Linked DNA regions of Homo sapiens. The protein of the gene in region 4 purifies or fractionates together with the protein of the main gene of each other region. This does not show direct contact. Each region holds a gene or a part of one and is shown on either strand. Other genes may lie near its edges.

Evidence for each region.
Region 1: the proteins of RALYL (region 4) and ESS2 purify together in Homo sapiens (affinity purification with mass spectrometry; 3 studies listed by BioGRID and IntAct, with this or other methods). This does not show direct contact.
Region 2: the proteins of RALYL (region 4) and ZC3H14 purify together in Homo sapiens (affinity purification with mass spectrometry; 3 studies listed by BioGRID and IntAct, with this or other methods). This does not show direct contact.
Region 3: the proteins of RALYL (region 4) and CDC40 purify together in Homo sapiens (affinity purification with mass spectrometry; 3 studies listed by BioGRID and IntAct, with this or other methods). This does not show direct contact.

What each region holds. Positions count from the first base shown.
Region 1 is NC_000022.11:19,134,635-19,141,663, reverse strand, and holds part of ESS2 (splicing factor ESS-2 homolog), read left to right. Parts: intron 1-1,636; coding exon of another isoform or gene 1,637-1,639; coding exon 1,640-1,809; intron 1,810-1,934; coding exon 1,935-2,052; intron 2,053-2,371; coding exon 2,372-2,505; intron 2,506-3,184; coding exon of another isoform or gene 3,185-3,244; exon of another isoform or gene 3,245-3,346; coding exon 3,347-3,449; intron 3,450-4,231; coding exon 4,232-4,341; intron 4,342-4,717; exon of another isoform or gene 4,718-5,325; intron 5,326-5,404; exon of another isoform or gene 5,405-5,455; intron 5,456-6,488; coding exon 6,489-6,604; intron 6,605-7,029. UniProt on the Homo sapiens protein: May be involved in pre-mRNA splicing.
Region 2 is NC_000014.9:88,622,020-88,628,108, reverse strand, and holds the end of ZC3H14 (zinc finger CCCH domain-containing protein 14), read right to left. Parts: 3' UTR 5,506-6,089; coding exon of another isoform or gene 5,391-5,505; 3' UTR 3,140-5,390; coding exon of another isoform or gene 2,982-3,139; 3' UTR 1,272-2,981; coding exon of another isoform or gene 1,063-1,271; 3' UTR 513-1,062; downstream 1-512. Other genes in the region: EML5 (echinoderm microtubule-associated protein-like 5), read left to right, coding at 290-463, 1,063-1,271, 2,982-3,139, 5,391-5,505. UniProt on the Homo sapiens protein: RNA-binding protein involved in the biogenesis of circular RNAs (circRNAs), which are produced by back-splicing circularization of pre-mRNAs.
Region 3 is NC_000006.12:110,204,402-110,211,430, forward strand, and holds part of CDC40 (pre-mRNA-processing factor 17), read left to right. Parts: intron 1-3,104; coding exon 3,105-3,188; intron 3,189-4,682; coding exon 4,683-4,822; intron 4,823-6,305; coding exon 6,306-6,402; intron 6,403-7,029. UniProt on the Homo sapiens protein: Required for pre-mRNA splicing as component of the activated spliceosome. Plays an important role in embryonic brain development; this function does not require proline isomerization.
Region 4 is NC_000008.11:84,179,348-84,186,302, forward strand, and holds the start of RALYL (RNA-binding Raly-like protein), read left to right. Parts: upstream 1-3,926; 5' UTR 3,927-5,077; intron 5,078-5,323; exon of another isoform or gene 5,324-5,651; coding exon of another isoform or gene 5,652-5,667; exon of another isoform or gene 5,668-5,836; coding exon of another isoform or gene 5,837-5,886; intron 5,887-6,955.

The DNA.
Region 1 (7,029 bases), on a different chromosome or scaffold from region 4:
CCCTAATTGGCATCCCTTGCACAAGAGCAGAAGCTTTGTTTTGCTTTCATCTGTATGCTCCGTGTTGGGAACAGCACATGTGGTGTTGTGGGCCTTGCACAGATACACATGGAACAGATGAAAGAGTTGTCATCTTCAGCATGTTTGCTGGGACACACAGCTCTATATGGTAACATCGTGACTTGATGGGGGAGTCGGTTTAGGAAAGGGCACTCCGAGTCCTGTTGAATGCAAGTGTTCTGCACGCCATGGGACTTCTGCGTTGTCAGGCCCTCTTTTCATCAGTAGTAGAATGTCAGTGCATGTATAGACAAACGAGACACTCTTTCTTATCAGTTTGTAGACTCCACTGTGCTGGAGTAGCACAGATGTGTTGTGTGTTTGCACAAACATGCAAACATGATACTTTTTGCTTTACAATCCAGCTTTTTCGGCCATTAACACAGTCCTTGTTGTCCTTGAAGCTTGATTATCTGTTGAAATGTAGCTTGTGCATCACAGGGCAATTTGTAGATTTTTTTCTTCTCCTTTTTTTTTTTTTTCCTATAGAGATGAGGTTTCATTATGTTGCCCAGGCTGGTTTTAAACTTCTGAGCTCAAGTGATCCTCCCACCTTGGCCTCCCGAAGTGCTAGGATTACAAGTGTGAGCCATCATGCCTAGCCAGTTTGCAGATTTTCAATACCTGTACACCTACATGCCAGTAAATATAGGAATCCTTTTCAGAACCTAAGTGGTAGGAACCATCATCATGTTTACAGGTGAGGAAACTGAGGCTCAGAAAGGCAGTCACTTCTGCAGGTCTCAGAGATGGTCAGGGTTTCACTTCTTATCTCTCTGAGATGAATAGAGTTTCTGACCCCTGTCCTCATCCCGTGGGTCTTGAGCTTGTAGCCACTGTGCCTTGTGCATAGCCTCACGTGTAGCAGGTGGTCAGGACTGTCACTAGACTTGAAGGCAGAGCTCTCCAGGTGGCCCCACCGAAGTTTGCACCACCACACGCAGCACCAGGGCACCACCTCAGTGGGAGTACCACTTTCCATGGTGGCAGGGTTGGTCGGAGGGGGGGGTGTTTGGGGTTGTGGCTTAGCACCTGTGAGGCCCCATCCAGAGGACTAAGTCATATGAGATCCCTGGAATTGGGGCTCGCTCTCAGGTCAGGATGATTAGGCGATGACCACCCACCTGTAGTACAGGTACCAGGAAGAGAAGAGTGGGTAAGGTAAGGAAATCCTAGGGAGTGAGGGAGAGCCCCAGGGATTTGGAGGCCTGGCACCCACAGGCCTGGCACCACTTTGGTGGGGGAGGAGCCTGCCTGTGATCACGAGCTCTTGCTCTAACACCTGTATTGCTTTCTCCAGTCTGAATCAGACCACGTAATTCCCTTGGCATCCAGCACATGAGCAGAGCTGGCCCTGAATCTGTAGGGTACCACCTGAGGGCTCTCTGGGCAGTCAGGGTGGGTGGATTCTGCCCCCGTGGGGAGTCCTTGGCAGTGTGGGCTTTCATGGGCAGAAGCCAGGACCAGGGGAGAGGATTCCAGCCCTGCATGTTGGGGGCTATGATTCCTGGGCCTGGGTGTCCTCCTCTTTCCTGACTGCAAAGGGTGCTGTGTTCCTCCTCCCGCAACCCCTAAGCAGGAGAGGCTGGAGAGGAGGAGGAGAAGGAGCCGCTGCCCAGCCTAGATGTCTTCCTGAGCCGCTACACGAGTGAGGACAATGCCTCCTTCCAGGAGATCATGGAGGTGGCCAAGGAGAGAAGCCGGGCACGCCACGCTTGGCTCTACCAGGCTGAGGAAGAGTTTGAGAAGGTGTCTCTGGGGTCTGGGGTGTCACATAGGCGTAGGCACCCTCTGTGGTGGTTGGGGAGCCCCAGGGCCATGGGTACAATGCCCAGGGGCATCTCTGACCATCACTTTTCCCCATGTGATTGCAGAGGCAGAAAGATAATCTCGAACTCCCGTCAGCAGAGCACCAGGCCATCGAGAGCAGCCAGGCCAGTGTGGAGACCTGGAAGTACAAGGCCAAGAATTCCCTCATGTACTATCCAGAGGGTAAGTGGCGGGCCTCGCAGCCAAATGGGGAGGTGTTGGGTAGAGCTGTGTGTGTCTGGCTGTGTTTGGAGCAGCCTTCCAGGTGTGTATGGCCGTGCCCCCTTGCAGTTTGGGCTTCTGATGGGTACTGGTCTGTCTAAGGGTGGACAGGTCTGTGTGAGGTCAGCAGTGAGTGAGACCCTCTCCAGCGGCACTGGGGCCTGCGTTCTGCTCAATGCTTTTGTTCATCTGGGAGTGACTTGGCCGAGAAGCGAGCTCCTCATGCTCCTTAGGCTGCTGCCCTTCTGACACCTGCTGCTACCTTTGCTTCGTCTGCCAGGTGTCCCTGACGAGGAGCAGCTGTTTAAGAAGCCCCGGCAGGTGGTACATAAGAACACGCGCTTCCTTAGGGACCCCTTCAGCCAAGCCCTGAGCAGGTGCCAGCTCCAGCAGGCAGCCGCCCTCAATGCCCAGGTGAGCAGGCGGGTCAGCAGGGCCGCATGGGCCAGGTTGGACAGGGCTGCCTGGGGGCAGGCATGATCTCTCCCATCTCTTTGAGCTTGGCAGAGCTCAGTGAGTGGAACCATCTGGGGCCCTGTGCGGCAGGATCCTGAGTCTTTCCTTGGCCCCAGTGGGCTTCCATTGAACACTGCCTTGGTCACACACGTTCTGTAGGTCCAGATCTGTGCCAGCTCCCTTGATGGCAGGGGCAGGAGAGAAAAGGGACTGCTGGGAGTGAGCCCAGGCTGGCAGCTGCACGCCCACACACCGGGCAGGGAAGCCAGAGAGCCGCAGAGGGAGCCCAGCCCCAGGGGGTGGCTGGGGTGGGACAGGCCCTGGGTTGGCAGAGAGCAGAGGCTTTCTGAGTCTGGGAGCAAGACGAGTAGATACTCTCTGATGGTGACTGTGGCAGTCACAGGGTTGAAGTGGGGAAGGCAGGAAGAGACTAGAGCATAAGCATTGCCTGTCATCAGCATTGCCTGTCATCAGCATTGCCCCCTGCAGGGGCCTGGCGTCAGCATCCTCTGGAGTTGCTGGGATAGGCGCAGCTCGAGTGGAGGCCCTGGCACCTCCCTGGATGGGAGGAGGGGGCTTTCCTTGCTTGGGTACCCACTTTGACAGGCCCTCAAGGTCTTTTGGGGGGTTGGGGCAGGGGCCCTCCCTCTCTTTCTCCAAGAAGGCTGCCAACCCCAGAGCCCCAGCCTTGCCCTGAGGAGAGGAAGTGTTTCCAGCATGTTCCCACGTGTTTGCCCACCGGCCAGCTGTCGAGCGTGGGCTGCGGTCCCCCTGATGCCAGCCTCTCTGCTTGTTCCAGCACAAACAGGGCAAGGTGGGCCCCGATGGCAAGGAGCTGATCCCCCAGGAGTCCCCTCGAGTGGGTGGATTTGGATTTGTTGCCACTCCTTCCCCTGCCCCTGGTGAGAAAAGTGCCCACTGGCAAGTGGGTCTACTGCTGGGACTCCCTGGGGGAGGTGGGCTTCTCAGTCGGCCCTGGCCACTCCTGGCCTCTACCTGGCCTGCCCCACACCTTGTGTAACTCAGGGACCTGGTCTCCTGTCTGTACAAGGCCCTAGAGGCCAGGTGTCCAGGCTGCTTGGGGCCGTGGGTGGGCTGGACTCTCAGGCAGACCTGGCCTGAGACATCCTGGGATGACGTGTCCTGTCCTGGTCCTTACTGTGATGTCAGTGGGTGGGGGTGTGTGCACAGTGCTTATGAGTCTAAGTCTACCTAGCACTGCAGGGAGGGAGGCCCAGCACCTCAGTGGAGGTGAAACTCAGGTGGTCTTGTGGCATGCGTGGGTGTCCCTCTGCACTCTGGCCTCTGTGCTCTTGGGTGCTGGTGCTGTGTCACACGCCAGGGCATGTGAAGGCACCACAGGTTTGCCTGGGGTTCTAGGAGGTTTGGGAGCCCTGGAAGGCCTGAGTGTCTCCTCCTGCGTGGCTGGGGGAGACCTCCCAGAGGCTTGTAGGCTAAGCACATGGCTGTAGGGCCTTGAGCCTGCCTCGGGCCTGCTGGGAGCTTGGCATTTCCCTTTCGGAGGATGGAGGTGCCAGGGTTCCAGAGTCCTGGGGAAGGAGAGAGGGCTAGCTGCCTGCCTTCGTATTAGCTGGGATGCACATTGGGTGAACAAGCTGTGACTGGAGGGGAGGGTGGTGGGGAGTCCTCTGGCCTGAGGTGGTTTTGGGCTCTTTGTCTGCAGGTGTGAACGAGTCCCCGATGATGACCTGGGGGGAGGTTGAGAACACACCCTTGAGAGTTGAAGGGTCGGAAACGCCCTACGTGGACAGGACACCCGGCCCAGCTTTTAAGGTGGGTTGTGGTGATGGGGGAACTGTGTGCGACCGGGGTGGACACCTCTGGAGCCCTGAGTGCCTGTGGCTCAGGACTGAGCACTGGGATCGGCCCCCAGCTGCTGACGGGCAGAGTGCTGGCTTTTCTGAATGCCAGGGTGCTGAAGGCAGGTGTGGGTGGGTGGACCTGTCACAGAGGGATTTGGGGGTGTAAGGGCTGAGACACCAAGGCAGGGAGTGGCTTGGGCCCTCTGGATCCTGGAGGCCGGGTGCTGTTCATGAATGAGGCAGGATGGTCACAGACACGTGAGGAGCTCTGCAGGCCTGAGGGCCATAGGACGAGGCTGTGTGCTTGTAGAGAAGGCCCCTGGTTACAGAACACGATTGGGACACGCTGGATTACACGGCTCAAGCCTGGTGTTGTAGGAGTGGTCAGGGTGGAGTGTGTGAGGCCCGGCACAGACCAGGGGAGGCTCTTCGTGGGCTGGGTCAGATACAACAGGCCTCCCCATACCACTGCGGGCCTTTCCCCAGAATACTTAGTACAGGTAACCCATGTCCAGACAAAACATGGGGAGAGGTTCTGGTTACCTTGGTTCTAAATTGTCTGGGACACAAGGATAACCAAGGCAAACGTGCGAGAGGGATAATGAAGAGGATGCCGTGCTGTCCAATGTGAGAGCGCAAGGCAAGGGCTGAGGTGCTTCTGAGGTATGCCTGCCACTGCTTCCCGAGTCTCCAGGCCAACAGTAAACAGATAAATTCTGAAACAAACCATGATCCAAGTCAGAATTTGGGGCCCGATAAAGATGGCAACTCAGATTGCACTGAATAGCAGAGTATTTAGAAATGAAGGGAGCTGGGTCCTCAGGATGTGTAGCAGCATACATTGTGGAAAGGTGAAAAGGTTACATGTAAAAACAATAACCATAAAACAACCAGAAGAAAATAGTGGCGAATATTTAGTTTGATTTTTGGGTTCAAGTGATTCTCCTGCCTCAACCTCCCAAGTAACTGGGACTAGAAAATAGTGGCGAATATTTAGTTTGATTTTTGGGTTCAAGTGATTCTCCTGCCTCAACCTCCCAAGTAACTGGGACTACAGGCGCGTGCCACCACGCCCGGCTTATTTTTGTATTTTTAGTAGAGATGGGGTTTCACCATGTTGGCCAGACTGGTCTCGAACTCCTTGGCCAGACTGGTTTCGAACTCCTGACCTCGTGATCCACCCACCTCAGCCTCCCAAAGTGCTGGGATTACAGGCGTGAGCCACTGTGCCTCGCCTCTTTTTTTTTTTTTTTTTTTTTTTTAACAGATAGGGTTTCACTCTGTTGCCCAGGCTGGAGAACAGTGGTGCAATCATAGCTGATTGTAACATTGAGCTCCTGGGCTCAAATGACCTTCCAGCCTCAGCCTCCTGTGTAGCTGGGACTAACAGCATACACCACCATGCCCAGCTAATTTTGTGTGTGTGTGTGTAGAAATGAGGTCTTGTCATTTTGCTCAGGCTGGTCTCCAATGCCTGAGCTCAAGTGATCCTCCCACCTTGGCCTCCCAAAGTGCTGAGGTTCCAGGTGTGAGCCACCACTCCCAGCCTGTAGTCTAATCTTAAGTTAGGAGGGACTTTCTAAACATAAAAGCAAAGGAAGAAATCACAAATGAAAATAACAAATACAGCAGAAAATGTTATAAATGAAACAAATGTAAATGAGTGAAAAAACATGTGCACAGCGTAGCACAGTTGACTTGACACAAGGTCTTGGCAAGGGTCTTCTGAGTAACAGCAGCAGAAAAGGAAAATGAGCCCCTTGAGAGCAAAATAGGCCACAGGCACACGGGGAAGCGCCCGAAATACAGAGCGCCGATAAAGACAGAGATGTTCACTCTGATAATCAGGGAAACACTAAAACAGACTGCTTTTTCCTGAGAGATTGTCAGAGGTCATGGTTTTGGGAGGAACACGAAGACAGGTGAGGAGTGCTGCGCCTTGGGCAGGTCAGGTGGGGTTTGGGGCTTTCCAGGGGCTTTTAGTGGGAGGTGATGGGTTGTGGGGGTTTTGTAGGCAACAAAGAGAGGCTGGCACCCACCACAGTGGCTTTCTGTGTGAGGGGCTGCCTGGCGTGTGGCAGGCCTGGCGCAGCTACCCACACACCTGCTACCTTGTAGATCCTGGAGCCAGGCCGCAGGGAGCGGCTGGGTCTGAAGATGGCCAACGAGGCCGCTGCCAAGAACCGGGCCAAGAAGCAGGAAGCCTTGCGGAGAGTGACGGAGAATCTGGCCAGGTGAGGGGCCGCCTGGCTGGTGGGGAAGTGCGAGGGTGGCTCTGGCCTGCTCCTGTTCGGCCCCTGCCCTGACCGTGTGGAGGCATGGCCCACGCGGCAGAGTCCAGGGCAGGTCCGCGGGGTTCTGCAGTGGGTACTGTGGCAGCTCCTCTATCCAGAGCATGGCCGCACATGGACAGGATGAGAGGCCCCCTCCATCTTCTCTTTCCTCCACGTCCTCTTTGACCCGTCCCTAAGAGGCATCTTTAGGCGTGTGGTCCTGCTGGGAGCTTTCATCAGCCCTGTGGAGAGAGTCATCGTTCCCCTTGGAGAGGGGTGGGGACTCCAACTCTCAGAGGCCTGGGGGTGCACCCCAGCCCCCACAGCCAAGGGCGGTGCTGCTGTTTGACCTCAGGTTTGACCTGAGCGCTGCTGTTTGACCTCAG
Region 2 (6,089 bases), on a different chromosome or scaffold from region 4:
TTAAAGTTGAGATTGCCTGATTTGCTTGTCTAAATGCTGTTTTTCCAAAAGTGCAATTTGGAATATGGCCTGAAGAAGTGTTCTATATATTTTCCTTTTCTTTCCTCCCCACCCCCAAAACTCCTTTTCCTTTCTTAAATTTAGCCTTAGTTTTGAGCTGTTCTTTGTTAAGTACAGTTTTTGTTTGGTACACATTTGTCCATGTTTCACAGATGAATATGCATAAGCTTTAGAAACAGAAATATTTATAACAGGTAGATTACAACTTTTTGATACTATCTTTATTTAGCTACAGCTCCTTCTATTCACATCTGGGATGCAATGAACAAGCAGACTTTATCTATCCTAAGATGCTACCATTCAAAGGGAGTATGTTCAGTCAGCTTCAGTGCTACTGGCAAACTATTGCTGTCTGTGGGACTAGACCCAGAACATACTATTACCATTTGGAGATGGCAGGAAGGTAGGATTCTTTTGTGTGTTTGATTTTTAAAAAAACAAGAATACAAAGGTAGTAGGAATTCTGTATTTAATATTTGTCTTAAAGTTGGTGGTTGAAACAATCATTCAGTGGAGGCCTATGCAATATACTGTACACAGTGGTACTGTAGGTATATTTCACTTTAAAAGCCCAGTGGAACTGTAACCTCACAAAACAGATAAATTAATGAAACCATTATTAGCATTATAAATGATTCACTGCTATTTTCTTCCAGCAAGAAACTATGTATTTATTATTAATGATTTGATTGGTTTTGGAGATTCTTATGAAAATTATGTATATTTCTAATGATAATGGCAGATCAGCAGGATAATATTACCTACCACACTTTAGACAAAACATTTACGTTATATAAAGAAAAGTTAATGGAGCGAAGATAAGTGAAAAGGACTCAATACACAAATAATTGTAAATCATGTATTGCTAGGTAGTAGAGCAGGGGCCATTGGCCTCTCTTCTAAGCCTTTGTTTTTTGAACTATGTATTTTACATATTTGTTTGATGCTGTTGATTAGCTTGGTTCTTGTAATAACCTAGATAATTTTGTTGTATCTTGTCAGGTGCCAAAATTGCCAGCAGAGCTGGTCACAATCAACGTATTTTTGTGGCAGAATTCCGACCAGATTCAGATACCCAGTTTGTCTCAGTGGGAGTAAAACATGTGAAGTTCTGGACCCTGGCAGGAAGAGCTCTTCTTAGCAAAAAAGGGCTACTGAGCACACTGGAAGATGCCCGGATGCAGACCATGCTCGCTATTGCATTTGGTGCAGTATGTCTCTTAAAATGCACATAGTGTGACTTTGACTACTTTACATTCTCTTGCCTTAGATCATCAGCCACATGAATGTTGTTGAGATGATACTGTGATCTGCTAATCATTACATGCCCTGGTCAAGCATATATTTCATCTTTCAAAAATCTAGTTCTTTCAGAAATTAGGGAGTGAAAAGAATGTTAATGAGAGGGGGAAAAGGATTTTTTTTTTTTTTTGACACAGTATCTCACTCTGTCGCCTGGGCTGGGGTGCAATGGTGCGATTATAGCTCACTGTAGCCTCCATCTCCCAGGTTCAAGTGATCCTCAGCCTCCTTAGTAGCTGGGACTACAGGGCAGGAACCACCATGCTAGGCTAATTTTTCTTTCATTTTTAGTAGAGACAGGGTTTCGCTATGTTGCCTAGGTGGTCTCAAGCTCCTAAGCTATGTGATCCTCCCATCTTGACCTCCCAAAGTGCTGGGTTTACAGGCATGAGCCACCATAATAAGGATTCTGATGAACATTTGATTCCTTGGACTACTGTTATACTCAAAAGCCTTCCTTAATCTTCTAATTGTCACCCTAAATATCCTAAAATTTCTGTCTTCCTAGTAGTTCTTCATAGTCCTAAAAATTTGTCAGAGAGAAAGGTAAATCAAGAAACATGATTTTCAAATGATTTAAGGTGGTACTAGGGTTTAGGATTTCCTTTGCTTTTTATCATTTAACACACTGCTTATCATACAGCTGGAAGTGCTCTGGGCCAGTGTCTCTACTTCGAGGGAAGAAGGAGGTAGTGAGACAGAAGGAAATAGCACAATTCCTGGCCCTGACAGAAGGGTGTTCAGGAGACCTGCTCTCCTCTCACTTTATTCCATCTCATCTGGACCTGTGGCTTCCAATCCACATCTCTTTCCTTTAATATCCTGCATTGGCTAGGCTGTATAAATCCTTTGGTGCATCGAAAAACTAAGTGCATTTTTTGTTTTTGTGATTATGCAATACTTATAGGAAAAGTTATAATTTTAGAATATTTAAGTACACTTACATTTTTGAGAAAAAGACTATTGAAATGTTTGTGCCATGTCAAATTTCAGTTGAACATTTTGGGTATTCTTAATATAAGACCAGGCCAGGCACCGTGGCTCAGGCCGGGCACAGTGGCTCACACCTATAATCCCAGCACTTAGGGAGGCCAAGGCGGGAAGATCACCTGAAGTCAGGAGTTCAAGACCAGCCTGGCTAACAAGGTGAAACTCTGTCTCTACTAAAAATACAAAAATTAGCCGGGCGTGGTGGCTGGCGCTTGTAATCCCAGCTACTTGGGAGGCTGAGACAGGAGAATCACTTGAACCTGGGAAGCAGAGGTTGTGGTGAGCTGAGATCGCACCATTGCACTCCAGCCTGGGCAACAAAGAGCGAAACTCCGTCTCAAAAAAATAAAAAATAAACCCTAGAATTATAGTATGTTAGAATTGGAAGGGAAGAATTGTCTAAGGTTATTCTAGCTAATAAGCAACAGACTTGGAAAGGAAAAGGTCCTGACAAAGCTAAGCCTCCCGTTCAGGTTTCCTGACTCGTGAATTCAGTGCTGCTGCCACTACACGATGCATGCTCTTTGTATCAAGGGTGAGACAGCATTACACATACATAGAAAATTATCTATTTAAACTCTATTTGAACTTTTGATGAGTTTGTCTCCCCCTCCCCCACTCCTTTTCAGAATAACTTGACGTTTACAGGTACCATCAGTGGTGATGTCTGTGTGTGGAAAGATCACATATTGTGTAGAATCGTGGCGAGAGCTCACAACGGGCCTGTGTTTGCCATGTACACCACCCTGCGAGATGGACTTATCGTGACTGGGGGAAAGGAAAGGCCGTGAGTCCTCTTTCTTTTCACAGAATATTTATGCATTTGTGACCTACCTGAGGTTTGCAGTTAATTATTCTAGTTGTTTCTAGGCTACACAGAGTGTCCTCTCCGACCTTCCTCCTCATATGCTTCTCCTTTATTACCTTTTATGTGCCTTCTATTTGATTCTCATTTCTGGTCTTAATTCACTTCCAATTTTTTTCATGTTGGGGTGATACTTTTTCTGAGGTGTGGATAGGTAGTTGTCCTACAAGTTGAGTTACTTTTCTTAATGTCTGTATGCCTGTGTATGATTTGCTGAGTAGGAGGCCCATGGGGGAATCTGGAGCCAGGGTTGTATTTTGACTGCCTGCTCTCTTTTTGTTCAGAATGGATTCTAAGGAGTAGAATGCACATTGTTGCTTTAGAAAAGGATGAGGGAACTAGAGAGAACTGCCTTGTTTCCTTTTGCTTGAGGCAAATTTAAACTGTTTTATACAAGACCTCAAAATTTGAGAAGAGGTCTCTTCTGAGTGATTTTCAAATCTCCCAACAGTAACCAGATACTTATGATTTGATTTGTCACCAACATAGTCATATGCATGTTGAAACATGACATGTAGGCCAGGCACAGTGGCTCACACCTGTAATCTTATCACTTTGGGAGGCTGAGGCAGGTGGATCGCTTGAGCCCAGGAGTTCAAGACCAGCCTGGGCAACATGGTGAAACCCCATCGCTATAAAAAACAACAATTAGCCGGGTGTGGTGGCACATGCCTGTAGTCCCTGCTACTCAGGAGGCTGAGGTGGGAGGATCACTTGAGCCTGGGGAGGTCAAGGCTTTAGTGAGCTGTGATGGTGCCACTGCACTCCAGCCTGGGTGACAGAGTGAGACCCCATTTAAAAAACAAAAACAAAAACAAAAAAAAATGTGACATATAGTTGACTAAGAAGTACATTTCAATACAGGATTGAAAGAACCCACATATGTTAATTAAACACAAGCGCAGAATTTGTGCCTTTTACATAAAGGAAGAATGCACATAGGCATGCTTTCAGACAAGCAATTCATCTAGCAGAAAAGGAAGGAATACATTTTTCAGCCCTTCCAGGAATAAAATCCATAAATGGGCTCTATTTCGTCCTCCAACACTTGTATTTCCCACGTCATTTACTCCTGCACACCCCCACTCACTAGAAGCCTGCTAAACTGTTCCAGTGAGATATTTTAACACCTGATAGGGAATAAATATGCTTCTGTTTTGGCCTTCAAAAATAAGCTCTGGGCCAGTTGCAGTGGCTCACGCCTGTAATCCCAACACTTTGGGAGGCCGAGGTGGGCGGATCACGAGGTCAGGAGTTTGGGATCAGCCTGGCCAATATGGTGAAACTCCATCTCTACTAAAAATACAAAAATTAGCCAGGCATGGTGCCTGTAATCCCAGCTACTTGGGAGGCTGAAGGAGAAGAATCGCTTGAACCTGGGAGGCACAGGTTGCAGTGAGCCGAGATCACACCACTGCACTCCAGGCCAGGTGACAGAGCGACACTCTGTCTCAAAAAAATAAATAAATCAACTCTGTAGCATAGCATTTGTAATTCTATTATTTTGCCTTACATTTCCATTATCCTTTTAATAAAATTGTTTTTTTACATCTTCCTAATCAAGAAGTATTATGAGGCCAGGCACAGTGGCTCATACCTGGAATCCCAGCACTTTGGGAGGCCGAGGCAGGCAGATCACCTGAGGTCAAGGTATTTGAGACCAGCCTGGCCAACATGGTGAAACCCCATCTCTACTAAAAATACAGAAATTAGCTGGGTGTGGTGGTGCACACCTGTAATGCTAGCTACTCGGGAGGCTGAGGTAGGAGAATCGCTTGAACCTGGGAGGCAGAGGTTGCAATAAGCCTAGATCATGCCACTGCACTCAAGCCTGGGAGACAGAGCGAGACTACATCTTAAAAAAAAAAAAAAAAGTATTATGAGAGAGGATAATGTATTGTAATGTATTGTAGAGGCTAAATAAAATTATGCTCATGTCAGAAAAAAAGAGTATTTCTCAAAATAAAATTCACTGAAACTGGATGTTTATTTTGACTGAGATATAGTATATCCTCAAATTGCCATAGAAAGTTTACAAGAATATTAGAGGTAAATTATAAATATCAGGGCCTTTTTAAAAAAAAAAGATTCTGCTTATAACTTGGTATTTGTTTATAATAAAAATTATAGTAGCCAATAATGAACACTTACTCTGGCTTGGTTATTTACTTAGGTCAAAAGAAGGAGGAGCGGTTAAACTGTGGGATCAGGAACTGAGGCGGTGCCGTGCCTTCAGGCTTGAGACAGGACAAGCCACAGATTGTGTTCGTTCTGTGTGCAGAGGCAAAGTAAGATGTTCCATGAGCTGATACAGTGCAGCAGAAAACAGAAAGTGGTTATTACTGTGATTCCCTCACCCTTTGCAGCCTAATGAACAATACTTAATAATGCATAACGATGGATTTGCTTGCCAACATTACTCTGTCTTTGCTGCTTTCTTTGCCAAAGTTAGCACCAGTGTGGTGCATAAGCTAGGAAGCTATTCTGTCTAAATACTGTATGTAAACCTCCAATATTTTCTAGAATCTGCCAATTTAACAACTCTAGTAGACATAATTGAAAGCCCTTGGCAGTTGACTCATATTAGGACAGCTGTCTCCATTTTTTAAAAAAACACACATTCCCTAGATAAAACGTGCAGTAAACAAACAATGAAATACTACTCAGCCATAAAAAATAATGAAATTCTGTCATTCTTGGTGGCAACATGGATGAGACTGGAGGACATGATGTGAAGTGAAATAAGCCAGGCACAGAAAGATAAATACATGTTCTCACTCCTGTGCAGAAACTAAAAAAGTTGATCCCACAGAGGTGGAGAGTAGAATAGTGGTTACTGGAGGCGGACAAGGGGGAGGGGGAGGGGGATAGG
Region 3 (7,029 bases), on a different chromosome or scaffold from region 4:
TTTGATTCCAGTTTTCACTATTAAAAATGTGATGTATGTTATGCTACAAAGTGCATTTTAAAACATGGTAGTGAATATTTTTGTACATAAAACTTTACATGTTCTTATATTATTTTATACTATTTTCTTAAATGAGTTCCCAAACGTAGGTAAAAGAATATGTGTTTTAAAAGCTTTTGGTATATATTATCAAATTGCTTTCCAAAAGAATTCTCTCAACCTACTCTACCACCACAGTGTATAAAAGTCCTATTTCTCTTTTTTTTTTTTTTTTTTTTTGAGACAGGATCTCGCTCTGTCACTCAGGCCGTGCAGTTGTGGGATCTCTGCTCACTGCAACCTCTACCTCTGGGGTTCAGGCAATTCTCATGCCTCAGCCTCCTGAGTAGCTGGAATTACAGGCATGAACGACCACACATAGCTAATGTTTTTTTTTGTATTTTTCGTAGAGATGGGGTTTTACCATATTGGCCAGACTTGTCTCAAAACTCCTGGCCTCAAGTAATCTGCCTTCCTTGGCCTCCCAAAGTGCTGGGATTACAGGCCTGAGCCACGATGCCCGGCCCTATTTCTCTTCATCAAAGATCCATATGATTGTTTTTCCTTTGTTTACTTGATAATCAAAGTATTATATTTCTTTATTGCAACTTGATTTTTCCGGACTACTAGTGAGGTCGAAGGTTTTTTCATATATTTATGACCATTCTTTTGCAAATTGTTTATAGTCTCTTTTCATTTGCCTAATGGAATTAGTTTTAATAATTATTATTAGTTTAATAATCTTAAGGGTATAATAATAAAATCAATATTATGGCCATTTCAAATAAGACTGCCGAAGGGAAGAAAGTAGACATTAATTCCATTAAAAAGATAAAAGGGAAAACAAGCTTCAGGAAGATAGATAAGAATATTTAAGAAATGTAGAAATATTCACTTATTTGAGACACAAGATAGTGAGAAAACAAATTGGACTGAAATTTAGTAGTGTTAGAATTAGATCTTGTTCTATCACTGGCTGATTTGTAGTAAGACATAAGGCCAAATATTTAACTCTTATTTGTAAAAGGAAAATAATACTGTTTTCTAATCACCTGGGGTGGAAGGCAGTAGTGGGGATGGTGGTATGGCAGTAAAGATTTTTACCACAGAGGATGTGGAGCAAGAGGAAAGCATAACTTATTTTTCTGAGTAACAAGACAGTGGCCAGATGAGTTGGGGAATGGTGCTTACACAGAGACAAGGACCAGGGATACCTCTTCCCTCTCTGTCTACTCCTTCACCCTTCCAGACGCGTCATGAAATGCTATTTATGTAGACGTTAAGTCTCCTTTCAAAGTAGAAATTTACATTCTAGCTAGATACGTTTTTTATTATTGAAATGGAAACTTTTAACATGGTATGAGCTTATAAAAGTCTCATTTTTTGGAAAAAGTTATGTGCAGAACACTTCTGTACATCAAAGAGATTAAAGACAAAATAACTCATGGGATTTGAACCTGTGATTTCAGAGATTCTACTCCAAAGGCTGATTTTCTGCCACCAAGCTCTCTCCTCTGGTTAAGAACATATTTTAATGCTGAAAAAAACTATATGCAAATCAGCTAATAGCCAGGTGGTTGGTTCTGTTATAGCATATCATGAGGGTGAGTTCAGCACTTACATCCTTAGCTTGTTTGAAAAGCATGCTTCATGATGAATCTTTTTCTGTTCCCCAAAAGAAGTTCCCTATATTCTGTTTTTTTGTGTGTGTGTGTGAGATGGAGTCTCGCTCTGTCGCCCAGGCTGGAGTGCAGTGGCGCGATCTCAGCTCACTGCAAGCTACACCTCCCCGGTTCACACCATTCTCCTGCCTCAGCCTCCCGAGTAGCTGGGACTACTTTGGATGAAAAATGAAAATAATAAGTCTATCCTCTAGGATGTGCCCTTTAGAAAAAATGGGCTTAGTACTTTTTTATGTATTCTATTATCGTACACATGAGTTGTAGGCCATAAAGTGATCAGTGATTTAGCACTCTTGTGAATATACCAGACTAATGTTACCAAACATTTACTGTGCTAGCACACCCATTTGAGAAAAAAACTGATTTGAGCTAACTTAGGTAGACTTTCTTTCCTTAAATTCCCATGGACCACTGAAGACCACATTTATATGTAGCTACATACTTTATAATTAGTTTAAAAAGCACATTCGTATGCTGGTAGATATCCTTCCTTCTCTTAAGGAAATATAAAGAATGATTGATGAAATAGAAATATATTAAGATTGGGAAGGAAGACTGTCCTTACTGCAAATGGTATTTTCAAAATAATAGCTAGATTTTATGTAATCTTCTTACCCTTTTTTATTTAATAATTTACATAATTTGATAAACTTAGCCCTGCAATATCTATTACCAAGAAGAAAAGGAAAATGGTTTCTAGATTTCCAAGTGCATCATGTACATGTATTTTCAAGCTCTTAGAATATTTAAAACTAAAGTTTGATGTGTTGGCCAGAGAGGCTCTTAGTAATGTAATGTCAGTATGCAAAATTCATCCTATAAGAAACATATTATGCTGGAGTCTAGCCTGAGCTTTGGGTTCTAAATAGAAAAATATAGCTTTGGGTTCTAAATAGAAATATAGCTCAGGGGCCGGGAGTGGTGGCTCACACCTGTAATGCCAGCACTTTGGGAGGCCAAGGCGGTGGATCATTTAAGGTCAGGAGTTCAAGATCAGCTTGGCCAACATGGTGAAACCCCATCTCTCCAAAAAAATACAAAAGTTAGCTAGGGGTAATGACGCATGCCTGTAATCCCAGCTACTCTGGAGGCTGAGGCAGGAGAATTGCTTGAGCCTGGAAGGCGGAGGTTGCAGTGAGCCGAGATTACACCACTGCACTCCAGCCTGGGTGACAGGGTGAGACCCTATCTCAAAAAAAAAAAAAAAAAAAAAAAGGAAGCAATATAGCTCAGGGCAGAATGATTGGTCCTGATTGGTCCTGAGTTAGAGATCATTTTTGACATCTGGGAAAGAAAATGTGAAATGTGTATATTTGTATTATAATAATAAAATGAATTTAAACAGCAAAATGGAGTTAATAATTTTCACTTTTTTGCTTTCAGGTTATGCATTAGACCCTTCATTAGATAATCATCAAGTGTCTGCTAAATATATTGGTTCTGTAGAAGAAGCTGAAAAAAATCAAGGTAATTTATTTGAAACATTTGATATCATATATACCTACACATCTATAATTAGTGTCTTGCAGAGTGACTTTAATTAGACAGTAAAAAATAGTATTTAGCGCTTTTTTTTTTAAAGTTGAAACAATGGAGCGATACAGTTTAGAGCAATATAGTTCAGAAATGTTACAGTTTAGAGCTTGCTTTTGCCGCTTACTAGTTGTGGAATCTTGTAGGGAAAATAATGATACATATCTCTTTGAGTTACTTTGAGTACTTGGCACCATGCCAACCCTGTAGAAATCACTCAATAAATTACAACTAATGTATAGATAATTTTGGCAATTGATTTCTCAACATTAATGTCAAGCTTCATTTTAACAGAGTAGAAATACTTTATTTGGTAAGTCTGTGAAGATTGTCTTTGAAGAGTTGCTTTGAAGGTTGAGTTTGAATATGTGTTGTATGTATGCTTGTATTCATATTCATTTTGTACTTACAATAAGACAAAACATCATACGCTAAACGCTAACTTGTCACAAGCCTCATCAGTCCATTAGAATATTATCCATAAAATGCAATTTAAAAAGTAATTTGCTGGTTGGTTGCATGGGACATTTGTGCTTAGTAGCTATAGATCCTATGTGATCTGGCTGGTCTCTGTATATGAGCTAGATTATTGTTAAAATAGAATTTTAACAGGCTTTTGCTATAAAACATAGCCTGAATTAATATAGGTAGACATTTCTTCTTTAAGCTAGACCTCTGCAAGTCCCATCTAAAGGTAGCTAGATTCTTAGTTAACTTGTGACTATGATTCCACAAACCTTTCTTTTTCCAAGTTAATGACTATACACAGTATGCCACCTCCTACTAATCAAATCAAAATCTCAACCAGAAACACCCTCCTTCTCCTTTTCTTTTACTGTTAACGTTAATGATATTAGAGGTCAAGATGAGACTGAAATCACTTGGAAGGAATACCATTTCTGGTGAAACCTTGTTTGATTTACATTTTTGCATTACAAGTGAAGTGAAGATAAGTTATTAAGTACTTACAGTAATTTAGTTTAATTTAGTTTTAAAATGATAAATTACAGTTTATTCTTGCTTCCAAATGTCACTTTATTATTACTTAGCAATAATGAGTTTCTGAGTTTTTTCCAGAAAGTCGTACAAATCCACTGACACAGCTTTTTGATTCAATAAAAGGCTTGTGCGCCATTGTAGGAGTACATATTTGGGTCTCTTCTTTAAGTATACAGTATTAGAATTTGCAGAATATTGAATTAGTTTTAAGTGTCTTTGCCCAGAAGGTTGAATCCCTTTTTCTGTAGCATGAGTCAGCGTATATGGTAGATTCATGTAGATTGTTTTTTAATAACTCTGGGGTCACTTGAACAATCATCTTTCTTTAACCATATAAAATAAAATTAAACATATGTTCATATTTCTTTAGAAAATGTACATCTTTGTAATCTCTCAGTTTTTTTTTTAATTTTTTTTTTGTTAACGTAGGTTTAACTGTATTTGAAACTGGTCAGAAGAAAACAGAAAAGAGGAAAAAGTTTAAAGAAAATGATGCATCCAATATTGATGGTTTTTTGGGACCATGGGCAAAATATGTGGATGAAAAAGATGTAGCCAAACCTTCAGAAGTAAGCTTTGATGTTTTTAATTGTCAATTCAGGTATACGCTGTATCTCTATGAAGGATATCTACATTAATAAACTTGAGATTTCTTTAGAGAACCAAATGACTCATCAAAATTTTTCTGCCTTTAGTTGATTGAAAATATACAATAAAATTTATTTGTTTTTCTTTGGGATATTTTTATTTACCTTTTCTGCTGATTTGTTTTCTCTCATGCTTTTTTATTAAAATACAATATTGAACAATTTTCATAAAGATTTCCTTGATATTGCTATTAAGCTGCCATGGTAGCTACTCTTCTGATACTAGACATTCAGATAGTAACTACAAAATCAGCCTTCTGTGACACTAGAATTGATTATAAATTTTATTGATTTATGAATTTATTTAAAATTTTCAACAAATTTTATCTCTATATATATCTTAAAAACTACTATAAAGTTTGTAAAGTAAATGCTCTGCCGTTCCCTTCCTCACCTCCTAATCTCACTGTCTCCATGAGCCAGAGAGTGTTCTAGGTCCCAGGCATACAGCAGTGGACAAGATCAAGAAAATCATGACCTCATGAAGCTTATATTCTAGCTGTTACTTACATCCAGTAAATCCATGTTTATAGTAATAGAAATAAACAGGTGATATCTAAGATGAATAAACTTATTCTACTATTTTTTATTTTAGATTTTATCTGTTGACTTGTTATTATAGATAGAGATTTACTACTACCCCATCTTCTGTCCCCAGCTCCTCCCAAAAAAATTGTGTCACAAATGTATAGCTATCACTTATATCCTTAGGAGTATGTAAAAACAATTAACTGAAAAACAACATTATGTGCTAAAATTCAGTTTCCATTCTGAAACTAGATTTTCTGATTGCCTTGTCTTTTTACTTGTATAACTAGTATAACATGTTAAAATTTATTTCTAGGTGTCACAGAAGGATAAGTTTTGAAAACTGATTTTATATAGTTGAAAAGTATTATCTAGTATCCATTATGTATTTAGTACCATTTCATAATTTGTGGAAGAGGTAATCAGTCTCTGCTTATAGAAGACTTGAGCTTGGCCGGGCCTGTAAGCCCAGCACTTTGGGAGGCCGAGGCGGGCGCATTGCCAGAGCTCAGGAGTTCGAGACCAGCCTGGGCAACACAGTAAAACCCTGTCTCTACTAAAACAGAAAAAATTAGCCAGGCGTGGTAGTGTGCACCGAGTAGTCCCAGCTACTCGGGAGGCTGAGGCAGGAGAATTGCTTGAACTAGGAAGAGGGAGGTTGCAGTGAGCAGAGATTCGCGCCACTGCACTCCAGCCTGGGCGACAGTGCGAGACTCATCTCAGAAAAAAAAAAAAAAAAAAAAAGTGTTGAGCTTGTTATCCTGGGAACATACTCGGACCAGATATGTAGAAGTCATTATAAAGAATTTATAACCAACTTTAGGTATAATGAGGTTCTAGAACATTCATTTTAAATTTCACTCCTTAATTTTCTTAGGAAGAGCAAAAAGAATTGGATGAAATCACAGCAAAGAGGCAGAAAAAAGGAAAACAGGAAGAAGAGAAACCTGGGGAGGAGAAGACAATCTTACATGGTAACATATTTTTTGTACATCTTCATTTTTATGAAAAACCTTCATATTTACTCTGTTCGCTGTTCATACAATATCAATTACCCTTACTATCAGCTGTAATAAAATCATTATGTTAAGTATAATTGTGTTGGACAATTTGTATCCCAAGGAAATTACAGCAGACTTCTGTATACTGATAAAGGAGAAAAAATAGCATGATTAATGATAGCCACAGATAATTTTTTTCCAAGTGTGAATGAATTTTATTAAATGGTAGATAAAAAGAAACTTGAATAGTCCACAATCTATTCTTTCGTAAGATAAAGTTGACTCTTTTGGTGTATTAATAGTGCCCCAGTCATTTTAAATGTTTTTAATGAAGCCAAATACTCAGGTATCCTCACAGTTCATAATCGTTATTCAGCTATATTCAGAATAAACTTGGATTTTCGTGTGAAAAGATGGAGCTTAAGGCTCTCATACTTATTTTGACTTGTAGAAGGAAATGCATATTCACCAAAACAAATCGTAAGTATTCTAGAATGTACCTGTTAATAATTAGTTATATTTAGGAAAATACATAGTGATTATCTAAAACTGTAAAGAATAGCTTAGCATTTACAGTGTTGCTTATTCTAATGTTATATT
Region 4 (6,955 bases):
TTTATCAGGAAACACCTCAGTGATTTCTTTTGTACACACCCTGTCACTATTGCAGGCTACTGTATCATAGAACTATACTCCATGTATTTAATTCAAAATAAACATATTGATACAATAATACTAGTAGACATTAATTTGTTCTACATTAACTTTCTAGAGAATAGACATTTTATTAATTTAATATGGAAATAAATATGAGTGTACCTAAATCATAATAAACCTTAACGTATTATGTATTTTAGTCTACATATCAGAATTTTTTGAATTCCATTAATATACAATGTGAAGAGTGAAATAAAACACTTGGGCCTCTTCGAGGGTGGAGGGTAGGAAGAGCGAGAGGATCAGGAAAAATAACTAATGGGTACTAGGCTTGATACGTGGGTGATGAAATAATCTGTATAACAAATCCCTATGACACAAGTTTACCTATGCAACAAGCCTACACTTGTACCCCTGAACTTAAAGTAAAAGTTAAAAATATATTTAAAAAAACAGTTGAAATATATTAAAAATTAAATTACACAGAAATTGTGGTAGTGCTTCTTGCTTTATTTTACTCATGACATATTATAATGTTAATATTTGTTTTCATATATTTTCTTTGGTTATTTGTACACATTATTTCACATGTCTTTGTCTTGGTATTTGTAGTTTCTCCAAACAAAAGTATTGGAAAAAATGCTATCAGACGTTGAAAGAGAAGTATCAGTAAAGTATAGTAATAGGCAGAGACAGGACAAATAAGGAAAAAAATTAATCAAAAATAAAATTCATAAAGTTATGAAAAAAATTAGCAAGCAAAATGAAAGAAAATGATTTGAGGGTACTGAATGTAAAAGTATGCATTTAAACCATGATATTATAACCTAATTTCTAAGTGTATATTTATATTTTATATATATATATATAGTTATGGTTCATATATCTTCAATATTTTCTTATGGAAACAAACATTGAGATTACATAGCATAAATTTTAAAATAGATTTTTTTCCTCAGTTACCATCATTTGTTTTATCTTACATTTAGTGTACTTTTCAATTATACCATGGCTTAGCTTGGAATGGACATGAACAGTTTACATGAAAACTTTGTTTTAAAAAGTCTCTGTAGTCAACTCCTGAAGACGTAACCACGATAACATGACCACATCTTTTGTACAGATTTTTCGTTAAGAAAAATTTAACCCCCTCACTTCTGCATTTCGTTTATTTTCTTCAGGTATTTTATAGAATCAAAAAGGTGAATATAAATATGTGTACTACAATGGTTATTTGTGGCAATAATAGGACTAAATTAATTCTCACAAATCTATTTTAGATCTACTGAATTTGAGCAAATCATGCCTTTGTTAATTGGCTTTGATGACATTACTGAAGAGTATTCAGTATCTTTGATGTATTTTTTGAATTTTTTTATTCTAGCTGTAAAACCAGATATAATTTTGGTTCAATCCTGTTTTTCCTGTGTACTAACAATAGAATCATGTGCAAATTACTCAAAATCTCTGACTTTATTTTTCTAATGGTTAAAATGAGTATAAAGTCAATGTCATGGAGCTGTTACAAAAATTAAATGAGTGGCTATACTTTCTAAATACCAGTTGCCTCAACCTGACTTTGTTTACTCTTGTTTATAATGCAGTGATACAACCCAAAAAGATGAAAATGGCACACTGGAAATAAACGATAGTGGAATATTTTGAGTACTCTAATGTAATTATATAAGTAAACGGGAAAAGTGCAGGGAGGATATTGATGTCTTGCTTTTCTTCAGCAGAGCTGCATTAACATAAAGGGGAGTCATTTTATTGAATAATAAAAGACTGACAATCACTGTGATTGGCTGACAGCCATTAGTGCAGTGTAATTCTAAATAGCTTGTTTTTCAAAGTTCTTCTTGAATAACTCTTCCCAGCCTGGTTGAAAGGTTCAAAACTCATTTTTAAAGTGAAGTTTTTCACATTTGAATACCACTGTGATATGAATGATGGAAAAAGATATGCATTAAAATATTTTCTTCTTAAATGTTTAGAATCAGATATATTTTCAAATGGAAGAGAAAATGTGGAAAATTTAACAAACTAAGTTTTAAATCCTAGATAAAATTAATTCAGGACTTGTGGAAGAAAAAGATCACGTGTAAAGAGATCTTACTTAATAAAATAAAATAAAATAAGTCCAACATGTTTTACAGCGAGAGCACAATATTTGATCTGTATTAGCCAGCTTAAAATTCTGTGATTTCCGAGTAGAACTCAAGGCTTCCAAAGTTATCAAATCCACTTTGATGTATTCATCTCTCTCTGTCAGTATTCCTAATCAACAGTCCTCCCTGGAAAGTATGTATAATAAGTGGGTGTACAGTTGGCAACTCACCAAAATAAATATTTAGTGATATTTTAATGGCTATTTTAAATCTCTTATTTAAATTGCGGATTAAAACTTTATTTGGCCAATGAATTCTGAGCACAATGTTTGAGGACCATATTTGCTACTGAAGCTCTGTGTGAAGGATGTGTACTTAATTTTCAGAATGTCGAGGTTAGATCATCTCTGATGGAGGCATTTTATATGAAACGTCAGCATTGGAAACATTGAGATAAAGATCGGGAGCAGGAATCTTTGAACTGCAGAATTGTGTTAATTGCTCATTCTCAAATATAGAGACGCCAATTAATTCCACACAACCTAGATTCAAAGCAGCACAGGGAAATGGTCCTGAGGTGAGTATTGTACAAAAATGAAGAAAAATAGATGTGTTCTAGCGTCCACAAAGCTGATTCTTCAACAGGCAGTAATAGAAGCCCAATGCACCCAGCGATTGGCTGATGGCATCTTTGTTCAGGCGATCGATGAGCGCCCTAACCCACACGCTGGGTGGAGAAATCCCTCTGCCACCCTCACCTTCAGAATCCACTGCTCAGCCACCTGGCTCCCGCGGGGTGCGCCACCGCCTCACTGCTGGTACACGTCTCCCCCTCTCGACCGCCAAGTGCTTGCTCCCTCCAGGCGAGCACTCACACAATGGACTCACTTGTTTCCCATGCCCCTCTCCTTTGACTTCCAGCCTCAGCGAACAACTTGAGCAAGAGTCAAACAGGAGTCTCTGCCATGGAGCATAGACCCTTGGAGCTTTCCAGACCAGCTCAGAAGCACGGGCGCACACACAGACAAAACAATGCCTTGTCCACGAATGAATAAAGGACACCCATGCCCCCACCCACCGCTCCGCAACCCGCAGAAAGAAACCCGGGACGGGGTTTCCTAAATAAGAGATTTTGTTGTGTCTTTCAAACTGCAAGCATTCCCCTTGAAGACGGCGAAAGAGAGGCTGTGCGTTCAGATGGCAATAAAGATTGACAGTGGCTTTGCCCGTGACAACGCCCCCAGCATCGCGCTGAGCCAGGTTCCCTGAGAACCGGGAGGGGGAAACGCAGATCTAGGGAGGAGGGAACAGCAGAGGCAAAGGCAGCTTGGGAGGGATGGGAAATGGAAAATCAGGGAAACAAACAAACAAACAAACAAAATGAATGAGTGAATGTGGGCTTGAATAGTAAAACTTCCAGAGAGAAGACGATGGGATCTCTCCCCAGGTAACTACCTGTAGATGAAAAATAGATGAAATACACAAGGAAGTGGCAAGCAACAACTTTGAGGTGAGCAGCAAGTTGTGCACCTCCTCTCAAGGCGCTGGATCAGCACCCCTGAGCTGCCCCCACAGCACACACTCCCAATGCGAGGCGGCGGCGGCAGCAACAGAGGCAGCAGCAGCAATCGCGGCAGCAGCGGCAGAGGCGGCGGCAGCTGCGCGCCTCGGGCCCAACCCCGCTCGGCTCCCCCTCTCGCCGGCGCCCTGCCTGTCTTGCGTGTGCGTGTGCGTGTGCTCAGCCTCAGCGTGAGGGGCACCTGCTCGTCTGGGCTCACAGCGAAGGCAGCCTCGCCGCGAGCTGCCGCTGCCGCTGCTGCCGCCACTGGTGTTGCCGCTCTCAGGCGCCAGGCTCCCCGTCGCCGCCGCCGCCGCCTCGCCAGCCAGAGTTGGGCTCCGTGGGCTTCCCCCCTCGCAGCCTCGGTCCTTCCCCGCTGCCTGCAAGTCAGCCTGGCTCCGAGTCACGTGTCAGTGCCTGAGGCAGAGACTGCGAGAAAAAAACGCGCTTCATTCCTTCTTCCACCGCCATACTGTATTTTATACTAAATCTCATTTTTATTCCAACATTTTACTCCCGCTCGGTGAGTACCTTCTCAGTGGCATTCTTGTCCTATTCTTTTTTTTGTCCTTTTTTTTGGTTTTTTGTTTTTTTTGTTTTTGTTTTTTTTCTTTTTTTCCACTTCTTTGATTATTGTTTATATTTGGGAAAGCTGGAGGAGCATGGTTTTGAGCCTTTTCCTGAATCCAAGTTTTTCTAGCATGCGATCGTTCTGTAGACAAGGCGCTGTGTCTCGGAGTCCGCGGCGACCGTGCCCGCTGGGAGCGTCTCCCAAGTCCAGCAAAATGTGCAACTGGTTTTATGGAAAAAGCGATGTGAAGTATGGTGCCTATTTTTTTCCTTTGTAAAAATAAAAAGCATGTTTCTAACTCTTTTTTTGCATACTCTTTTTCTGATAACATTTTTGTATAGGTGGGATTTTACGGCAGTGTTTACAAGTTTGTGGTCTTGCAATACTGGTGCAAACCACTGAGCAAAGACATTAATTTTATATTTTTTGTGCCCTTTTTGGAAGCCGGTGAAAACAAATTCGTTTTTTTTCCCTCCTGTTTTTGATACCCATTGATAACATGAAACTTTTCTTACAGCTGGTGATTGGGATCATTTTTAAGCAAAATACTTTTTTCCTCCTTTAAATTAACTATGACTTTTGCACATTTGACTTTTTTAAAAAACCGAGATAATTTTATGATAGATATCCTGATATCTATATCTATATTGTCCCTTATTTCTCCCCCTTCCCTCCCCGTAAATCAATTTTCAAATGATGGCAGTGGAAGGTTTTTCTGGAAAAAAAAAAATGAAGTGCGGTTTGGTTTCCTTGTCAACGGAGGATGAAGTGAACAGCTGAGCAGCTCGCAGAGAGCAGGTACTTGGTCCCCTTGGAGGCGTTTCCCGGGTGTGCAGTGGCAACACTGGTCCTAGCAAAGAAATGTGTGAGTGTGAGTGTGTGTGTGTGTCTGTGTTTGCGCGCGCGCATCTCCGGGCAGTGTCCGAGCCCGAGGTGGGGAGAGCGGCGCAGGGAGCCAGGGAAAACCAAAGTCCGTTCCCTGCTTCAGGATCGTTTTCTAGATGTGCGCAAAATACAGTCCCCTCCCCCCACCCCTCCCACGGTGAGCTGCGCCCAGGTCGTCTCCCGGCGGGGCGGGTGGCGTCTGCGCTGCGGGCCGCGCCGGCCGGGCACTAGGCGGCCGGCGGGCCCTGTAAGTTCTCCGAGGGCCACTTGCACAGCAGGAGGGGCGAGGGCCGTGTACGTGGCGCTGGCCGTCGGGCGGGCTAGAGGGGACCCTCAGAGCACCCGGGAGATGGGGGTAGAAGCGGCAGAGACCGCATATTCCGGAGGGGCTGGCTCCAGGCCACGCGAGCCGGAGCTGGAGACATTTCCAGAGCCTTGAGGATGGCACCGGCCCTCGCACGCTCAACTCCTGCTCCTCCTCTTCGCAATGAGTAAACGACGCAGTAGGTCCTACCCAGCCTATTTTGCTTTACCAAAGGGCTTTGCTTTCTTAGGGATGCTGTCTTTGGATCTTTTTTTTCCCTGTTGTGTTGCGTTGGTTTTAAGTGCCTGCTGGTGTCGTCTTCCAGGGGATGGGGAAATAGTTTCTTATAAGATGATCACTTGGGTTTAATGTTGAGGACGACGCTGTTAGTTTGCAGTAATGACCCTACACCTCTAAGGTATTAAAAAAATGCCTTTTATTTAAATTTTGTTAAAGGGGCAGAGTTTTCCCTCTTTTTAACCACCTGATACTGGCTCTAAAGGTTTTCCCCTGAGAACTGTGTACAGGGCAGGAGTGAGGGGTTGGTGATAGAGGTGATGATTTCGTGTGTTGGTAGCACTGACGTATTCAATGTTGAATGTATTCTATGATATTTTATGATTATCCTGTTACATGTTTTCAGTATAATTTAGCATTACTTTTCAGAGACGTACCAGTTGGCAATAAAAAGCCTTTTCTGTATTTAACACTGTGACCGAATCTGCTGGAAATTTTTCTGTCCAAATAAATTTCCTGAAGGCATACATCTTAAAATCTGGAGAGTCACCATTATTTAAATACTTTGATTTTGAAGCTTTGATTTTCTTACCTTTTCCCCCCTTAAATGAAAAGCTTAGCTTTAAATTACCATGTGTATATACTTTGAATTCTGTAAAATAAACATAAAGCAAATGAAACAACAACTTTTTACCTCTCAGATGAAGTTTTCTTCTAGGTAACTACAGAAATAAAAACTGACTGCAACATACAGAGGGGCCCATGACAAAGGGGTTTATAACATACACTGGCTTTTTCAAGCAAATATTTCACTGTCTGTAACCTCAGTTTGTGGAATGAAAGGTTTTACGCCTTAGTTTTTACTCTTTGTGGTCAAAAAGTAAGGCGTGCAATGGGCCATTTAACTGTAGAAGATTAAAAGTTAGTGTAATATCTGGAAAGTTGTATATATTTTTTATTCACAACTCATGCAAGTATCTCAAAAGTCTTTGGACATTTCATTGTATTTCCTGGCGGGGAAATACAATGTATGTGAGTTATTTTGTTCTCCGAGTAGCTTTTCTCTGTGAAGGAAATCCTGTTGCATTTATATAAAGAAGATAGTTTATGTCACTGTCTGTGGACACCATATTTGATATCTTGAGGTGTATAGTTCTAAGATTTGAAGCCAATATGATGGCACTAAGCCTGAAATTAGGATTTTCTTATTTTGTATAGTGAGCTAATTACTAAAATACAGTCTTTCATAT